Regions from separate parts of the Homo sapiens genome. Here region 1 is linked to region 2. Evidence: fine-mapped expression QTL. A gene starts in region 2. The other region holds a variant in brackets. All regions are shown on one strand. Distances are between the middles of the regions.

What was found. PIP is the estimated chance that this variant, and not a neighbour inherited with it, causes the effect. A credible set is the group of variants that fine-mapping cannot tell apart.
Region 1: its variant is the best candidate, but not a certain one, in a credible set for the expression of RAP1B in whole blood (TOPMed, PIP 0.51).

The regions. Positions count from the first base shown.
Region 1 is chr12:68,649,142-68,658,579 of GRCh38, reverse strand. It overlaps RAP1B (RAP1B, member of RAS oncogene family), which reads right to left. Exons shown (of 8, transcript NM_001010942.3): 3 at 8,112-8,180; 4 at 6,529-6,585; 5 at 4,328-4,468; 6 at 2,131-2,274; 7 at 1,363-1,479. The coding sequence ends at 1,393. Among named protein-coding and RNA genes, the nearest start is that of SNORA70G, 26 kb to the right of the region's middle. The variant T/C (reference allele first, on the strand shown) is at 5,064.
Region 2 is chr12:68,606,698-68,616,135 of GRCh38, reverse strand. It overlaps RAP1B (RAP1B, member of RAS oncogene family), which reads right to left and starts at 5,237. Exons shown (of 8, transcript NM_001010942.3): 1 at 5,093-5,237. RefSeq lists an enhancer at 1-449 and a silencer at 4,921-5,380.

The DNA.
Region 1 (9,438 bases), 42 kb before region 2:
TTTGAATAGTTTTCTGCATACATGCCTCGGCTAAAAAAATGTTCCCTATTATATTTTTCTGGTGATCAGACTTGTTACAAGCTCCAGAAGAGTTGTTAATACATATGTGGCTGTTGAAATAATTTTCACAAATGCCTAGAACTTTAGGTCCTCATTCTGAGTCTGAATGAGGTTTGCAATCAAGTTTTCTAAATCCTGGCAGACTGTTGCAAATTAAAAAGGACAGATGGAAGTGTGTGAGCTCAAGCACATGTGTGCTGCTAAGAATGGGCATGTGGTCAGGAATTATAGGATATTAGAATGAGAGGATATACCACTAAACAGAAAGCCCTAGATGGAAGGCAGGAATAAAAACTCTGAAAAGATGCAGAATCAAAGTGCTATGGCAGCACTGAGTCAATTAACATAGGAAGAAATAAGAGTCAGGAATGTCAAAGGTTCTTAAGAATAAATTAACAGTTTAACAATAAACAGTTTAATGACAGCTGAAGAGGAAACCATTATCATTGGCAAACAGCAGCAGCTAATAGTTGAGTGTTAACTATGTGCCAGGTACCGATGCAAGATCTGTGCAGCAAACCCCATGGTACACCTTTACCTATGTAACAAACCTGCACATCCTGCACATGTATCCTGGAACTTAAAAGTTGAAGGAAAAAAAAAAAAGTGGCACATGATGAACATGTCAGGGGTGTGTGTGTGTGTGTGACTGGCACATGATGAACATGTCAGGGGTGTGTGTGTGTGTGTGTGTTTTAAATTAGGGACGGTTGGCTGGGAGCGGTGGCTCACGCGCACGCGCGCACGTGTGTGTGTGTGTGTGTGTGTGTGTGTGTGTGTGTGTGTGTGTGTGTTTTAAATTAGGGACGGGGTTGGCTGGGAGTGGTGGCTCACGCCTGTAATCTCAGCACTTTGGGAGGCCGAGGTGGGCAGATCACGAGGTCAAGAGATTGAGACCATCCTGGCCAACAATGGTGAAACACCATCTCTACTAAAAATACAAAAAAACTAGCCGGGCGTGGTGGCACGTGCCTGTAATCCCAGCTACTCGGGAGGCTGAGGCAGAAGCATTGCTTGAACCTGGGAGGCGGAGGTTGCAGGGAGCTGATATTGCGCCACTGCACTCCAGCCTGGGTGACAGAGTGAAACTCCATCTCAAAAAAAGAATACTTATGTGAAATACTTTACTCATGATGATAAGTAAATAATTAATAAGATAGCATACTAACTCATGGATATCTTATAAAAATAAACCATTTATTTTTCAGAACCAACAAAAAGAAGTCTATACTTGCTTTCATGACAGAGTGCCCTTAATAAGGTTGAGTGATTAAAAGTTAGAGGAAAGATAAGTGAACATACCTGGCTCAGAGCTACAATGCATTTAGTATATTAAAGCAGCTGACATGATGACTTTTTGCGAGCCTTCCCAGGCACTGGAGTTTTTCTGTTAATTTGCCGCACTAGGTCATAAAAGATCTGCAAATACAATAATTTGTTTTAATTTACAGGAGGAACACCTATCCCCCCCAATGAAAAAAGTAAATTGAAAAAACAGAAATTTCCATGGATATAAATTAATGCCCAGAATTGTTCAGCTAAGGAATGAGAATAAAATCAGGTGTTATAACTGCCAAGCTCAAATTTTTGGGGAGTGTTAATATTGTGCTCCTTAAAATACTTAGTTGAAGGAGCTGCAGAGATCTTAACTTAGTTCAATTAGAACATTTACCATCACACAAAGAAAAAATCCTTTTAAAAACTGTAAGTTTTTGCTCTACAACATGACTTGGAGCCTTTCAAGAACCATGCATACTTTTCGGAATTTTACTCTATTTTTCATATAACATCCTTCATATACCTGAAGTCTTAATCTGTCTTCCCTATCCATGTATTTTCTGTCCAGTCTTCCTTTTTCATGGTAAATATCAATGTACAAGTATTTAATAGAGACTGAAATAGTATTGTTTATTTACTACATAGATACATTTAACATGAGGGTTTTTTTTTTTTGCCTGTAACATCAACATATTACCCTGAGTACATATTAACTTGGGGTTAAGACATTTTCCATTCATCTTCAATGTTGTACTTCAAATGAAGACCCATTTTAAGTATATTTGACCATACCTCATTAACATTTATTTTTGATTTTGCAGAAGATTCTAAGAATGCACAGTTGTTCCATTGTCTTGCTAGATTTTGACCTTGTTCCTTCCCTACAACTCTTTCATCTTCCAAGTCACACTTATTACCAACAAGAATCATTGGAACCTAAAAATACATTTGTGAGAGTAAAAATAAATAAGTAAATATGCTATATGAATTCAAATCAAAAGAATTCTAAGAGTCAAATCTAAGAATTACTTTTCATATGCCACAAAAAATATTAAATAATGTATAATAAAATTTACAGCCTTAACAATTTAATCTGTAACATAAACATAAGTATTAACTTTGATGTCAATTATCTCCACTGCCTTCTCTTTTCATGGAGATGCAAACGATAACTCCAAAGGGAAGAAAAGAGAGAAAGAAAACTCTCATATGTTAAGTAAAATGAACACAACCTAGTCAATGTAGACATAAATAAGACACTTTTACATAAACTTTTGAGAAAACAAGCTATGATCCTGTTATGAGAGATGGGGGGAAAAAACCTTAAAATTTTATCATAATGGACGGAAGGCTCCCAAAATAGAATTTTTAGTTTCTCATAGTCTTGTATTAAAAAAGTCAATCAAGGCCAGGCACAGTGGCTCACGCCTGTAATCCCAGCACTTTGGGAGGCCGAGGCGGGTGGATCACCTGAGGTCAGGAGTTGGAGACCAGCCTGGCCAACATGGCGAAACCCTGTTTCTACTAAAAACACAAAAATTAGCTGGGTATGGTGACACACGCCTGTAATTCCAGCTACTTGGGAGGCTGACACAGGAGAATTGCTTGAACTTGGGAGGCAGAGGTTGCAGTGAGCTGAGATCGTGCCATTGCACTCCAGCCTGGGCGACAGGGTGAGACTCCGTCTCAAAAAAAAAAAAAAAAAAGCCAATCAAAATTTACTAAAAATCAAGCCACTTATTAAATGGATTTACAAATTAAAAAATGTTCCCTGAGGTTGCTGTAATTATGTAGGGTCCCCCCAAATTCCCTTGTTTCAGAAGTCCAGAAAATAAAAGCATTTACCATGGGTGTCTCCCAGCTCTCACAATATTTGCTAAAATTAAACTGCAGTACAATGAGTCTTATTTATGTATTTATTTTGAGACAGGGTCTCACTATGTCACCCTAGATGGAGTGCAGTGATGTGATCTCAGCTCACTGCCAACCTCCACCTCCCAGGCTTAAGTGATCCTCCCACCTCAGCCTCCCAAATAGCTGAGACCACAGGCACGCGCCACCATGCTGGCTAATTTTTTTTTTTTTAAATTTCTGGTAAAGGCAGGGTTTTGCTATGTTGCCCAGGGAGGTCTTGAACTCCTGAGCTCAGGGGATCTACCCGCCTTGGCCTCCCAAAGTGCTGGGATTAGAGGTGTGAGCCACCATGCCCAGCCTGGTTCTTACAGTATGCAGATCAGCAAAACCAACACCACTTCGAAACTTGTTAGAAATGCAAATTCCTGGGTCCTACTGCTGACCTACTGAATCAGAAGCTCTGAGATCTCAGCCCAGCAATCTGTTTTAACTGGTCCTACAGGTGATTCTGATGCAAAATCAATTTTGAGAACCACTGCTATATTTAGTGTGATGAGGAATTAAACTCCATTATGGTAGACTCTGAAGGGGCACCTAAATTAATAATGTTAGAATCTAATGTATTTCTTGCCTTTAAAATCCCAGCACTTTGGGAGGCTGAGGCAGGCGGATCACAAGGTCAGGAGATCGAGACCATCCTGGCTAACATGGTGAAACCCTGTCTCTACTAAAAATACAAAAAACTAGCTGGGCATGGTGGCAGGCGCCTGTAGTCCCAGCTACCCGGGAGGCTGAGGCAGGAGAATGGCGTGAACCCGGGAGGTACAGCTATCGCACCACAGCACTTCAGCCTGGGCAACAGTGCAAGACTCCATCTCAAAGGAAAAAAAAAAAAGGAAGGGTGTAACATTTAATTTTCACAGGATAATGGCAAAGGAGGAAATTTCTCACTTTCCACATGATATATATTTGAAAACATGTATGGGTATTTTTGCCTTTCAAGGAAAAAGTTTAAAAAAACCAACACCCCCCCCCCAACCAAAATACACAAGCTTTAAAATGAATTTAAATTTAGACTTAAACAATTATAATCAGGGTTTTGAAATAAAATATATTTATTTGGAAGTCAGCTTACATCATCAGTGTCTTTAACTCGAAGAATCTGTTCTCTCAGGTCTTGTAAATCGTTAAATGTGGACTGTGCTGTGATGGAATAAACTAATGCAAATCCTTGTCCATTTTTCATGTATAAATCCCTCATTGCTGTAAATTGCTCCTACAATAGAAAGAAAGGAACGTTAAAAAACAATAATGTTTTGACAGTTATTTTTACAATTTTCACAGTCTATAATTATAGCTCAATGAAGAATACTGTAGTATTATGTAACTTTGTTAAAATTATAATCTATGACAAGATACTATTTGAAAAAATTGGCATTTTAGTTTCTTTTTTTTTTTGAGACGGAGTCTTGCTCTGTCACCACGCTGGAGTGCAGTGGCGCGACCTCGGCTCACTGCAACCTCTGCCTCCCGGGCTCAAGTGATTCCCCTGCCTCAGCCTCCCGAGTAGCTGGGACAACAGGCGCACACCACCATGCCCGGCTAATTTTTTTCTTGTATTTCGGTAGAGACGGGCTTTCACCATGTTAGCCAGGATGATCTCCATCTCCTGACCTTGTGATCTGCCCGTCTCGGCCTCCCAAAGTGCTGGGATTACAGGCGTGAACTACCACGCCCAGCTGGAAATAGGTTTCCTATTTAAAAACAATACACCAAAGTCGATTTATATACAAAAAATATACTCAAGTGGAACAGAAATATCCTGTCCCCAAAAGTTACTAAAGGCAGCTTTTAAAATACATCATCATGTA[T/C]AAAGCACCCCAACTGTATCTGCCAAGTTAATCTATTAGCTATGACTCAAATGCTGTAGTTCTGTAGGGCTCCATCAGCATGATCTAGACCATCCCATTTTCCCACACTACTTTTTCTTTGCTAGACTGTGAGCATTTGAAGGTAACAACACAGTGCCTGACATGTATCAGGTATTCAAACATTAGCTGAATGAATACCATACACCGAGAACAAATCTTCCCTTCATCTTCACATACCTACAAATTTAGTTTGTCTATAAATACGTTGAAGGAGAACAGATACCAATCAAAATATTTCTTTTTCTTTTGAAATGGAGTCTCACTCTGTCACCCAAGCTGGAGTGCAGTGGTGTGTTATCAGCTCACTGCAACCTCTACCTCCAGGGTTCAAGCGATTCTCCTGCCTCAGCCTCCCGAGTAGCTGGGACTACAGGTGCCTGCCACTGCACCTGGCTAATTTTTGTATTTTAATAGAGACGGGTTTCACCATGTTAGCCAGGCTGGTCTTGAACTCCTGACCTCAGGTGATCCACCCCCCTTTGACCTCCCAAAGTGCTGGGATTACAAGGCATGAGCCATCATACCCAGCTCAATCAAAATATTTCACACAGCTGCTGATGAATGAATGTATGCCTGTATTATTTGAAATATGGTAATATATTGTTTTAAAAGTACTAGTGAGACTGAAAATTTTTCTTCTAACACATTTTCTAAACTTTTCAATAACTGACCCACTGCAATTACAAAAAGTGCAATATACTTCCTCCGCCTCCCGGGTTCAAGCTATTCTCCTGCCTCAGCCTCCCAAGTAACTGGGATTACAGGTGTGTAACACCACGCCCGGCTAATTTTTTTTATATTTTTAGTAGATACGGGGTTTCACTGTGTTGCCCAGGCTGGCCTTGAACTCCTCACCTTAAGTGATCCACCCACCTTGGCCTCCCAAAGTGCTGGGATTACAGGCGTGAGCCACTGCGCCCGGCCAATATAAAATTAAGGATTCAACGGAACAACAACAAAAAGATTTAAAGTTTAGCAACTAGTAGTCTTATGTTTTTTTTTGACACAGAGTCTCGCTCTGTCACCCAGGCTGGAATGCAGTGGCACAATCTCCACAGTCTTGGCTCACTGCAACCTCTGCCTCCTGGGTTCAAGAGATTCTCCTGCCTCAGCCTCCTGAGTAGCTGGGATTACAGGCTCCCACCACCACACCTGGCTAATTTTTGTATTTTTAGTAGAGATGGGGTTTCACTATGTTGGCCAGGCTGGTCTCGAACTCCTGACCTCAAGTGATCCAGCAACCTTGACCTCCCGAAGTGCTGGGAATAGAGGTGTGAGCCACTACAACCGGCTGCAAGCAGTACTTTTAAATAAGCTTAACTAATATTTGTCTATAGAGTACTAGCATTTATGAAGTCAATACTGTACAAACGGTGTATATACTTTGGTATTTAGTTTTACCTACCGTTCCTGCAGTATCCAAGATTTCAAGCATACACTGTTGTGCATCTACTTCAACTTGCTGGTAGAAAAATTAAAATACATGTTCATTTTTTCAATGTACATAAAACTACCTTAATATACACAAAAAAGCTAATGTATCAAAAATAAGACACACAGATTTTAACAACTTTACAAACTAATATCCAGCAATACTTCAACAAAGCAGGAGGAAAAATAGCTAAGTAATCAAGATTCAAAGACCCCCAAATTGTAATCAAGTTCAAAAGCCATGTGTTCTCAAGTCAACACAGGGAAACCTACACGAACCAGTCTCAATATGGATTCTCAGCACTTAATTCTAGAGAAAAAAATAGTTTCGAAATAGCTCAAATAAACAAACAAAACCAGCAACAGTTCCAACAGTATCATAAGTAATTCTGTCTAAATTCTCCCATGATACTTTAGATATACCTCATTTCTCTAGGTAACTATATGCCCTCACCATACTGGAACAAGATTTCTGGAATTAAGGAAGCAGTGGCACAGCTATTAAATAAATTACACATATATCCCTGTTACCCCTTTCCATCTAATATTTCCTAGGGAAAAATAGGTATTTAGAATTAGATGTAGAAAGAAAAGAGTAATACTGTCTCACAGCTGGGGTGCAAAAGTTTCCAGTTTTTTTTTTGGTAGACTATGCACATGGAGGGAGGAATGGAAACACAGTATTTGTGCAACAGCGGGGCCAGGTTGGCTGCTTCATAGAGGTTGGGAAATACCTCTTTCCCTACTAAGTTAAAAATGTCTACACATTGTTTTATTGTCACATGCTGTTAGTGGACACAGGAATTCACCTTTCTATAGGCTGAGCATCCCTAATCTAAAAATCCAAAACTTGCAATGTTCCAAATCCAAAAGTTTTTGAGCCATGTGTGGAACATCACGCTACAAGTGGAAAATTCCACACATGAGCTCATGTGACCAGTCACAGTCAAAATGCAGCCAAAACTTTGTATCATGCATAAGAATATTAAAAATATTATGTAAGATTATGTGTATGAGGTGTATATGAAACCATGAATTGTTTAGATGTGGGTCCCATTCTATTTCATTATGTATATACAAATATTCTAAAATCAGAAAATAATCTGAAATCTGAAATACTTCTGGTCCCAGTTATTTCAGATAAGGGATATTCAACCAGTATTGTGAGTGGTGGCACTTTCTCAAGAGGTTAGTAAGTAGAAAGCTTAGGAAGACCTGTGTCCACCTATTTCTAGGTTAAAAAGAAGGGAGCTTGAGAGTAATCAGTCTTGCTAGGTAGGGGACTGAAAGTAACATGGGGCTACTACTTGAAATGGATGGTCTGCTTTAAAGTTTATGTGTCAAATTACAAAAAATTCTGTGAATATGTGAGAGTATGGGTGTTTATGATCCTCTTAAACTGGTAACTATGCAATGCCAGAAAGTGTAAACTTTTCCCACTAATTTTATAAATTAACTCTGCCTCCATCCTTTGTATAAAACATTCAATAATTATAAAGCTAAAATAAGTATTTATATTAAAATCAAAAGCAAAAGGCCTTCCAAAGTAATATATACCTTTCTATAAGAATCTTCTATCGTAGGATCGTATTTTTCTACAAAAATTCCTTGAACAAATTGTACAGTCTGAAAAAAAAATTAAGAAACCATTATACTTCTAAAGAAAAGAGTACATTCAATCTTTAATGTAATTGTAAACTGAGTTCACACAGGGAGTTACACCATCAATGAAAAAAAAAACCACAGCCAATACTACATTCGAATGTGTACATTTGGTAAGAAAATTACCTCAGGAAGCTGTTTATTTTTAAATAAATAATCACTATGCTCCTTATTGGGTAATTCTAAATTTAGAGATCATATATTAAAAAATTTTAAATGTCTCTGGTTTCAGTCCTTTGTTTTTTTTCTTTGAGACAGAGTCTTGCTCTGTCTCCCAGGCTGAAGTGCAGTGACGCAATTTTGGCTCACTGCAACCTCTGCCTCCCGGGTTCAGGCCATTCTCCCACATCAGCCTCCCGAGTAGCTGGGATTACAGGCATGCACCACCACACCTGGCTAATTTTTATATTTTTAGTAGAGACGGGGTTTCACTATATTGGCCAGGCTGCTCTCGAACTCCTGACCTCAGGTGATCCGCCCACCTCAGCCTCCCAAAGTGCTGGGATTACAGGCGTGAGCCACTGTGCCGGCATTGTTTCAGTCTTAAGAGCTTAAATTTGATTTTTAAATTAGAAATTGACTAATTGTTATGTATACACACATACATGCAGGATCAACTGACCTCCCCATCACTTTGGATACAAATGAAAAAGCAGTTCATTTCACATTGTATGTACTTCTCAGTTTGTTCCAAGCATGACACTTCTCAGCTAGGTGGCCTTTCTAAGTGGCCAAGATGGTTTATCTTATGAGTGAGACAGAAGGTCAATCTATTTGCTTGTGAGGCTTTGCTAAGCTCTGAACTATTCATCAAATTATTTTCCCTACGTTTTTCCTCTTTCCCAACCCTCATTACCCAGTTATGTCTTCATTCTTGCTATACCATTCCTTGATGCAGAAAACGTGCCGTTAAAAAATGTAAAGCTGGACAGTCAAAGGTAATATTTGAAGACTTTTTATAAGCTTTGATATTTTCTAACATAAAATGTACAGGGTAAGACTATTCATAAGAAGAAAGAGCAAGCCAGGCATGGTGATTTATGCCTGTAATTCCAGCACTTTGGGAGGCAAAGGTGGATTACTTGAGGCCAGGAGTTTAAGACCAGCCTAAGCAATATAGCAAGACGCCATCTCTACAAAAAATTTTAAAAATTAGCCTGGCATGGTGGCACGTGCCTGTAGTCCCAAGCATTCAGGAGGCTGAGATCACTTGAGCCCTAGC
Region 2 (9,438 bases):
AAAAATTAGCCAGGTGTGGTGGCGGGCGCCTGTAGTCTCAGCTACTCGGGAGGCTGAGGCAGGTGAATGGCGTGAACCCTGGAGGCGGAGCTTGCAGTGAGCGGAGACCGTGCCACTGCACTCCAGCCTGGGCGACAGAGTGGGACTCCATCTCAAAAAAAAAAAAAATCCAAATTATTTACTAGAGTTTTTAATGGATGCTCACTTCCTTTATTCAGTCTATCTGCACAACAGTTAAAAACATTCAATCCCCCAGTACCGGAAAAAAAATCACAAGTTATGAAACCAGAATTCAGCTAAAATTTAAAAGGTCTCACTGATATATGTATATGTGTGTGTGTATGTATGTGTATATATATACACATGTATAACTACAAAAACATAAAGTAAAAGTAATTACAAGTAAGCTTTAGGAAATGGTTTGATATAAAACTCAAACTCACAAGATTAAATAATTACTCTCTATGGTCAGAGAGACAGATTTGTAACTCAAAAGAACATTTCTAGTATGCAGGCACCTCATACACAATCTAAGTAATTTTTTTTTTTTTGACAGTCTCACTCTGTCGCCCAGGTTGGAGTGCAGTGGAGCGATCTTGGCTCACTGCAACCTCCGCCTCCCAGGTTCAAGCGATTCTCCTGCCTCAGTCTCCCAAGCAGCTCGGATTACAGGCACCTCCCACTACGCCCAGGTAATTTTTTGTATTTTGAATTGTATACTGATATCACAGAATATACTCCTCCTGTACAATAAAAATCAGATGGAAATTCTGTAACTCATGTTGTAAATATTTTTATTTTAGGGAATTTAAATTAAAAAAAACTGGTACATTTCCCCCACATTTTCATTTTTTCCTGTTTTAAGGTTCTTTGGAAAGTTTTAAAAATTTTGACCCTCTACTGATTCAAAGGAAAAAAAATCTTTCTAAATTACTGCTTAAATAATCAGTTGCTACTGTACCCTTGATTTGACCAACATTAGGAATAAATAGTCCAATGTTATGAAATACGGAATGTAAGTGATACTATTTTTTGTTGCTGGTGAATTTTAAAAAGTGATGTTTTTAAGGCAGCACAAAAGTTCCTGATAACTTTTCTTGTTTAAAATAGAAACTCTCCACGACCAAAGAGACTTGTTTTAGAATCCAGTGCTCAACTGGGTTCAAAGTACAACAGATTACATACAAATCAGTTTTTACTGCAAATGGATAAATTCATCTATTCTTTGTAGCTACTGCTTCCACTGTGCTTATGAGATTTACAAAGAACTTAAGACCTCAAATGGCAATTAGTACCTTTCAATACCATTGCAAAATAATCTATGAACACAGAAAAACACTAGCTTCCAGAGCCATGGTACAGTACTCCTGTTTACAGATGGCTGAACTAAAAATTTTGTCCAATGTTACAATGAATCACTGCATCAGCCAAAATGTCTTAACTTGTTCTAAAATTCAATTCAATTTGAAAAGGCTAACAAAAACTTCAGCCTAATCTCTTAGACCATGGAGTCCTCAATAATGACAGGAGGGGGAAGAAAACCCAGGGCATATTTTTAGTCACAACCTATGTCTCAGAAAGTTTAAGACAGACCAATCTTTACCTAACTTTTCTATAGAGTGAACACGTGACATCACTGCTATAAAACAGCAGTAAATAGCTAATTCATAAATGCTAAATTACTCCTAGTGCCAGTCAAATCTAGAAACTGCAGATCAATACCCAACCTCCTCTTTAGCAACACAAACATACAGAGAAACACAGTTATTTTACATCTTTAAGGAAATGAGGCAAATCAGTAAGATCTGTGTGATAGTCGATAATAAAACAGCCTATTTAAACAATACTTATGGGGAAAAAGTAAATGGACACCTTGTAAAATCGGTCAAATTCTCTGTATCAGATCCAATTTCAGATTAGTTTCACTACCTCAATAAATATTTATCGAGTACCTACAACAAAAGGCAAAAAAAACCTGAACGTGAGCTTTTCATCCAAATCTTGGACTGCATTTAAAATAACATGTCTAATCAGTTACCATGTTATCAATCTTTGCATAGACCTTCCACCAATCTTGAATTAGATAGGAAGATACAATTGAAAGGATCCTTACAAAAATGGATCTAGTTATTTTAATAATTAATTCTTTGCTATACCCTCCTTACATGGTAGCTCTTTATTATGGGAGGGGGTCACTTTACCTTTATACAGCTAAGAGAAAATATTGGAATTCTGAAAAGGATTGAGGATAAAACGAAAATTAATTTGTCAAGTAAAAGGGATTCCAAAGCCAATATGTAAATGTTTCTTTTTAAAGGATTACACTGTTCTCTTCAAATATCCTCTCTTTGAATGTTCATTACCATTAATCCCTAAATTCAAACGCTAACCATTACACTGTGCCCAGGCAACGCGCTACACTGTGCCCAGGCAACGCGCTAGGAAGATTACTGTGAAGAATGAAATGGATTAAGTCCCTACCCTCATGGTACTTACATTTAACTGGTGTTGAATGTCTATTGCAAGGCACCATGCCAGTGCGTTAAGGCATACAAAACAATATATATCTTGTGGTTGGAGTTCACAATTCAATGGAATAAATAATATAAAATGGTAACAGGAGGCAGGAAGTAATGCGTGTCATAGAAGGTAAGAGAGATGACTTTCACGCGGTCGTGGGTGAGGGGAGAATGTAAAAGAGAGCAGAGCAATCATTTTCTTATCTCCTTTTTTTTTTTTTTTTTTTAAGACAGGTCTAGCTCTGTCACCCAGGCTGCAGTACAGTAGTGCAGTCTCGGCTCACTGCACCCTCCGCCTCCCAGGTTCAAGCTGGTTCATTCAATGTGAACCTCCCAGGTTCATATTCTCGTGCCTCAGCCTCCCGAATAGCTGGGATTGCAGGCGCGTGCCACTACACCCGGCTATGTTTTGTATTTTTAGTAAAGACGGGGTTTCACCATGTTGCCCAGGCTGTTCTCGAACTCTTCACCTCAAATGATCCGCCTTCCTCGGCTCGGCCTCCCAAAGTGCTGGGATTACAGGCGTAAACCACCACGCCCAGCCAGAGCAATCATTTTCATGCCCCATACAACATTTTAAAATTAAGTCAGTTTAGCATTGGTTCTTCAGTTATATTTTGATACCTGGCATATTAAAAACAACAAACTGGCTACATGTGTTCCAATGATTTACTTTAGGACTTCCTTAGATAAGGCAGCTTCACGATTTATTGTCAACGTCAAACAAGGAAATGCAAGTGAAAACACCTAACGTAGTACACATTAAAAGCACAGATGAGCTCAAATAAGACTAAAGGAAATGCAAGTGAAAACACCTAACGTAGTACACATTAAAAGCACAGATGAGCTCAAATAAGACTATCATTCAGGCTCTGTGTGCTTAAAGTTATTTAATCTGAGTATCAGTTTCCTCACCTAAAACCTGAGGATGAAACTACTCAAGTGGTTTTTTCTCCTATTTGACTAAGGTACCCACTTTTTAAAAGTGCGATATGGGAAGAATATTCTTTGTAAGATGATAATTCACTATAAAAACGTTGTATTTCTTTCTCCATGTTGTCTCTTACGGATAGACTACTGTCCTAAAGGTCAGTGGACCCACTAACTGGTTATCTTATCTAGGCCTCAGTTTCCTCCTCCATAAAATGACAGGGTGGGACTGGATGATCTAAATAGTCCCTTCCGGCCCTTAAAAAGTCCCATGACTCCACTATGACTCAATAAATACTATTTCAAGAGTCAGCTTTTAAGAATAATATGGGCTTGAAGTTAAATGAATGTCTCCCTTTTCTATAAGTTACTTTTTGTTAAGATAAGGTCTTGTTGAGCAAGTCCAAACAGTATTCTAATTACGAAAAAAGAGAGCTGAAAAATAAATTTACAAGTCAGAGCTTTAAATTGTTAAGTACTCGACATATATGAGATGCTGCCTGCAAAACCAAAATCCAATTAGACGGAATTAATTTTAAAATACTAAAATCACAATCTTCATTTAGTGTCAACTTTCTACCCCGTAAAAATGTGATTTCCCCTTACTGCAACACAGAACTGCTTCTATTCATACCAATCAGAAGTTACAGGGCCAAAATGTTTTTCTAAACTATTAAAGAGAGTGGGAGAGGGGGGAAAGCGAAGGGGAAGGAAACCATCTGCTTTAACTTGCAAAAATGATCTTTTCTCCAAAAGACATCAGTGTTTTTCAGAAGAAAAATCCGGAGAGCCCGGTTCACTGGGCGTAGTTTTAAATAAAATTCATGGCGCTGATAGTTTTAGGATTAGACACCTCGAGATGGCGAAAAAGAGAAGAGGACAAACTTCCTGGATTTTCTCTCCCTCTAAGAGAAAGAGATTTCCTCTTGCTGACGAAGGGAAAGGCCCCTTTAACAGTTTTTCTCTACACGGTGGCTGCTGCCAGACTAAGTGGGGCTCTCTCCGCTGCCTTCCTCCTGCCACTTCCCGCAACAAATGGAGCAAGCAAGCCCCGTTTCAGGCAAACTTTTTCGCTGTCAGGCTCAAGCCCGCGGGGCGCCTGGGAGTGGTTTCCCCCGAAGGCTCCTCGCCCTAGCTCGGGGCTGGGAGAAGCTAGGTCTTCGCAAAGGACAACTTTCTGGTTTCCGTTCTAACTTCCACCCATACCACGGAGGGAACCCAGGCGACAAGCGAGGGGGCTCGGGGCGGGGAGCGAGTCTTCGGGGGAGCCGGCGGGGAAAGGAGGGCGGCGGGAGAAGCTGCGGCGGACGCGGGCTGAAGAGAGCGGGCGGGTGGGGGGGTCCTCGGGCTCTCACTTCCTCCGCCATATTTCAGACATTTGACCCCTTCCGCAAAGCGCGCTGTTCTCCCGCGGCGGCGGCGGCTGCTCCTCCTCGCCGGCCCGCAAGGCAGCGCGCTCGCGGGCCCGGCGCCTGGCCCTCGCGCCACCTGCCGCGCGCCGAGGGGCTGCCGCCGCCGGGGCCCCTGACCGCCGCGCCCGGCCCGCGCCTCGCCGCACCCCACCCGCTCCCCTCAGCCGGCGCCCGGCCCCGCGCGGCCGCCGCCGCGGCTTCCCTCAGCGGCCACGCACTCACTCTGCGAACCTCTCACGCTGTCACCGGGTCCCTGCAGCCAGCGTCGCCCCGCGCTCCCCCCGGGTCGCTACTCTAGGCGCCACGGCGGTCCTGCCGCTGCCGCGCCGCTCCGGCTGGTTTACACGCCTGAATCTGGGCGAGGTTTGGCGATGTCGCCTTGACGTCAGGCGTTCAGCCTCGCTCCAGCTTCCGCCCGCGGGCGGGGCGCGCGGGTGCGCGGCCCGGGAAGGGGCGGGCCTAGGGGGCGGGGCGAGGGGAGCCGAGGGGGCGGGGCCGCCGCGCGCCGGGTCCTCGGCGCCGGCCTCTAGCCGGCCTGCATCGCAGCCGGAGCGCAGGCCCTGCCCACGGGCCCCTTAGCTGCCTCTGGGCGGCATGTCTGCCGAGGTTCTTCTCTCTAGCTGCGCCGCGCCTTCAGGCTCGCTTCCCCAGGCTGTCTGGTGGGCGGAATCCGCGCGTCGGTGTTCCTGACCCTCGTGGGTTCCAGTGGAACCCTCCGAAACCCAAAAGGCGCCGCCTCTTAATGCAAACTGTAGTCACCGACTCGTCCAGTCTGTTGGTATTCGCGTCGTCCTTTGTGCTGGGCAAAGTAACCGAGAAGTAACGGAGAGCGCGCATTTTCTACACCTAGAGCTCCCCGAGGGAGCCTGGGCCAGCAAGTCTTTCCATTCTTGAGATGCCTTTTCTCCTGGATTGACAAGTGTTTTATCCATTGGTGTCTTAACCCGGGCGAACTCTTTCCAAATTCCCATGCCAAACGCAGTTAACAAATCGATGATTTCTAAATAAGTTTGTACCCTGCACCTAAACCAACGCCATTTATATAACTAAAATAAATTGCGTATTTAAATGCATGTCCTGGACGCTTTATTCACTTCACAGGATTACCCATAGGCAAGTAGGTTTATCGTGTGACTTCAGGGCACCAGAAAACACTTTCTGTTCCAAAATGCCTCGTTCCAAAAAGGGCGGGAACTTAACACGGGAATTTACCATTCTTACTTACCCTTAGTACAAGAAATTTATCAGAACTTTTTCTTGAAGCAGTTTTGATGGGCGAGGAGATTAAGAGAGCAAAGTGCAGGGAAAAGGGATTGAGGGGTCATTTAAGACTAACTTTCTTGGTTCATAATTTAATTAGGCCCTGTACAAATTATTCTTGAAATAAATCTTAATAAACGTTGATAAATTTGGAAGATAAATGGAATGTGACTAATTTCACTCCGTTTAAGAATATGTAGTGATTGAAAACTAAGCTAACCTAAGTTAAATGAATAGATGAGAATGAATTATAACAGTTCTCTGTGTTTTATAATGTTTTACAATTTAGGTTAATTGAGTAGATTACCTATTTCGATAATTTCTATTTCCTTAGAAAAATATCTTTTTAAAAATTGTTTATTGTCTGCATTTATTGTGTATACAACATGATCGTTTGAAGTAATGTATACATTGTTACATTACCTCACAGAGTTACCTTTTTTTTTGAGAGTCTTGCTCTGTCACCCAGGCTAGAGTGCAGTGGCATGATCTCGGCTCACTGGAATTTCTGCTTCTCAGGTTCAAGAGATTCTCCTGTCTCAGCCTCCCGAGTAGCTGGGATGACGGGCGCGTGCCACCACGCCCAGCTAATTTTTAGTAGAAAGGGGATTTCGCCATGTTGGCCAGGCTGGTCTCGAATTCCTGACCTCAGGTGATGCGCTCGCCTGGGCCCCCCAAAGTGCTGGGATTACAGGCGTGACTCACCGCGCCGGCTGAGTTAGCATTTTTTTTTTCTTTTTTGAGACAGAGTTTCGCTCTTGTTGCCCAGGCTGGAAGGCAATGGCGTGATCTCGGCTCACTGCAACCTCCGCCCCCACCTCCCACCCTCGGGTTCAAGCGATTCTCCTGCCTCAGCCTCCCGACTAGCTGGGATTACAGGCATGCGCCACCACGCCCGGCTAATTTTGTATTTTTAGTAGAGACGGGGTTTCTCCATGTTGGTCAGGCTGGTCTGGAACTCCCGACCTCAGGTGATCCGCCCGCCTGGGCCTCCCGAAGTGCTGGGATTACATGCGTGAGCCACCGCGCCTGGCCTTGAGTTAGCATTTTTTTATGAGAACACTTAACATCCATTCTTTAGAAAACCTTTTTAAATAAAAGTTTCAAAGGCAAATTTCAGAGCAGTCCGTTGGAATTACTGTAACTTCTCAATGAATGAGTGAATTACAAATAAATTTGACTTTACTAACTTTTCAGTTATTGCATAAAAATTTGATAACTGAAAGTCTGAAACTTTGAGCTCACAGAAGTGTTACCTGGGAACACTGTGCTTTTTCTTTCTTTCTTTTTTTAGAAAAACTCTTTGTCCTTTGGGCAATTGATTTTTTTTTTCCAGAAAGAAATTGGTTTTAGAAAATTGAAGCTAGAATTTTTAGAGTTTGAGAGAACGTGTAAAATAATCTATTTAATTAAAAACACAGTTTCTCTTATTAGACTGGAAATCATTGTTATTTGTATTAAACTGTTATCACTATGCAGAGAATACCATAATCTGCATCTCTTAACACTGAACTCACTTTTCAGTTTGAGCCTCTTTCCTATTTATTTCCTTGACTTCTTCTCCAGGATATTCCACTGGCAATTTGCACTGGTCATGTGTGCAAACTGAACTCATCGTCTTTGTAACCAAACCAGTTTCTTTTCCTCTTCCTTTGTGAATTGTATCACCATCTTTTAAATTACCCAATCTTCAAGCCTGATACTTAGCTCTCTGCTCTTCTTGAATAATCCATCAATTGGCATATCTATTAGATAGTAATTCGACAAGGTCTTTCATTGTGTTTCCTCTTTTCCATTTCAACTAAGACCATACTTAGTTTTTAGTTGCCAAATTTAGTTTGGCAGAACTCATCCCCTGGACCTTTGCAGCCTGGTGGCCTCCAGTCTGTTCCTGCTGTGATCCATTCTATACATTGTTGCCAGATGATTATCTTAAAGCATACCAAGCAAGTCACTCCCTTCCTCAAAGAGCCTTCAATTACTCCCCACTCTACCAAAATAAAATTAAAATCCTGTGTCTCACTTTTTCCTTTCACTCAAAACTGATTTATAGTCAGAATGGACAGTGGACTTTTCATCTGGCCCACATAATTTGCTTCCCCATCTCTCTGTTGTGCATAGGTGAATGATTTCCTCTGCCTGGAATGCCCCTTCCCATTCCATCTCATTCTGCAAATACCTTGCCCATTATTCAAGGTTTATCTACTTTCTCTTAAGAATGAGCTTCTTGGCCAGGCGCGGTAGCCTATAATCCCAGCACTTTGGAAGGCAGAGGCGGGCGGATCACTTGAGGCCAGGAGTTCAAGACCAGGCTGGCCAACATGGTGAAACCCCATCTCTACTAAAAATACAAAAATTAGCTGGGCATGGTGGCACATGCCTGTAATCCCAGCTACTCGGGAGGTTGAGGGAGAAGAACTGCTTGAACTGGGACCCGGGAGGCGGAGGTTACAGTGAGCAGAGATCGCACCACTGCACCCCAGCCTGGGCTACAGAGTGAGACTCCGTCTCAAAAAAAAAAAAAAAAAAAAAGAGCTTCTTTTCTGATACTTCTAACCTTATGTATTCTCTTCTCTTTAGAATCCCTGAAACATTTTATTGCTGCTTTTCTTTGTCACTTGTGTTTGACCTTCCTGTGAATAGGGATTTGCAAACTTTTTCTGTCAAGGGCCAGAGAGTAAATATTTTAGACTTTGTGGGCCAGACAGATGGTCTCTGTTGCAACCACTCAACTCTACAGTTGTGGGACAAAAGCAGCCATAGATAATACATAAAGAATAGACCTGACTGTATTCTAATAAAACTTTATTTATGGACACTAAAATTTGAATTTCAAGTAATTTTAACGTGTCACGAAATGTTCTTTTTTTTTTTTTTTCTTTTAGCCATTTAAAAATGTGAAAATCGGCTAAGTGTGGTGGCTCACGCCTGTAATCCCAGCGCTTTGGGAGGCTGAGGTGGGAGGATCACTTGAACCTCAAGAGCTGGAGACCAGCCTGGGCAACATAGTAACAAGTAAGACCTTGTTTCTACAAAAATAATTTAAAATTAGCCAGGTGTGGTGGCACATGCCTGTTGTCCCAGCTACTTGGGAGGCTGAGGTGGGAGGATGGCTTAAGCCCAAGTCGAGTTTGAAGTTACAGTGAGCTATGATCATGCCACTACACTCCAGCTCTGGTGACAGAGCAAGACCCTGTCTCAAAAAGAAAAGAAAAGAAATGTCAAAATTGTTCTTAGCTTATAGGTGCACAAAAACAGGGGCGGCCTGGATTTGGCCAGTAGGCCATAGTTTGCTGAGCCCTGTACTCAGGGCCAGC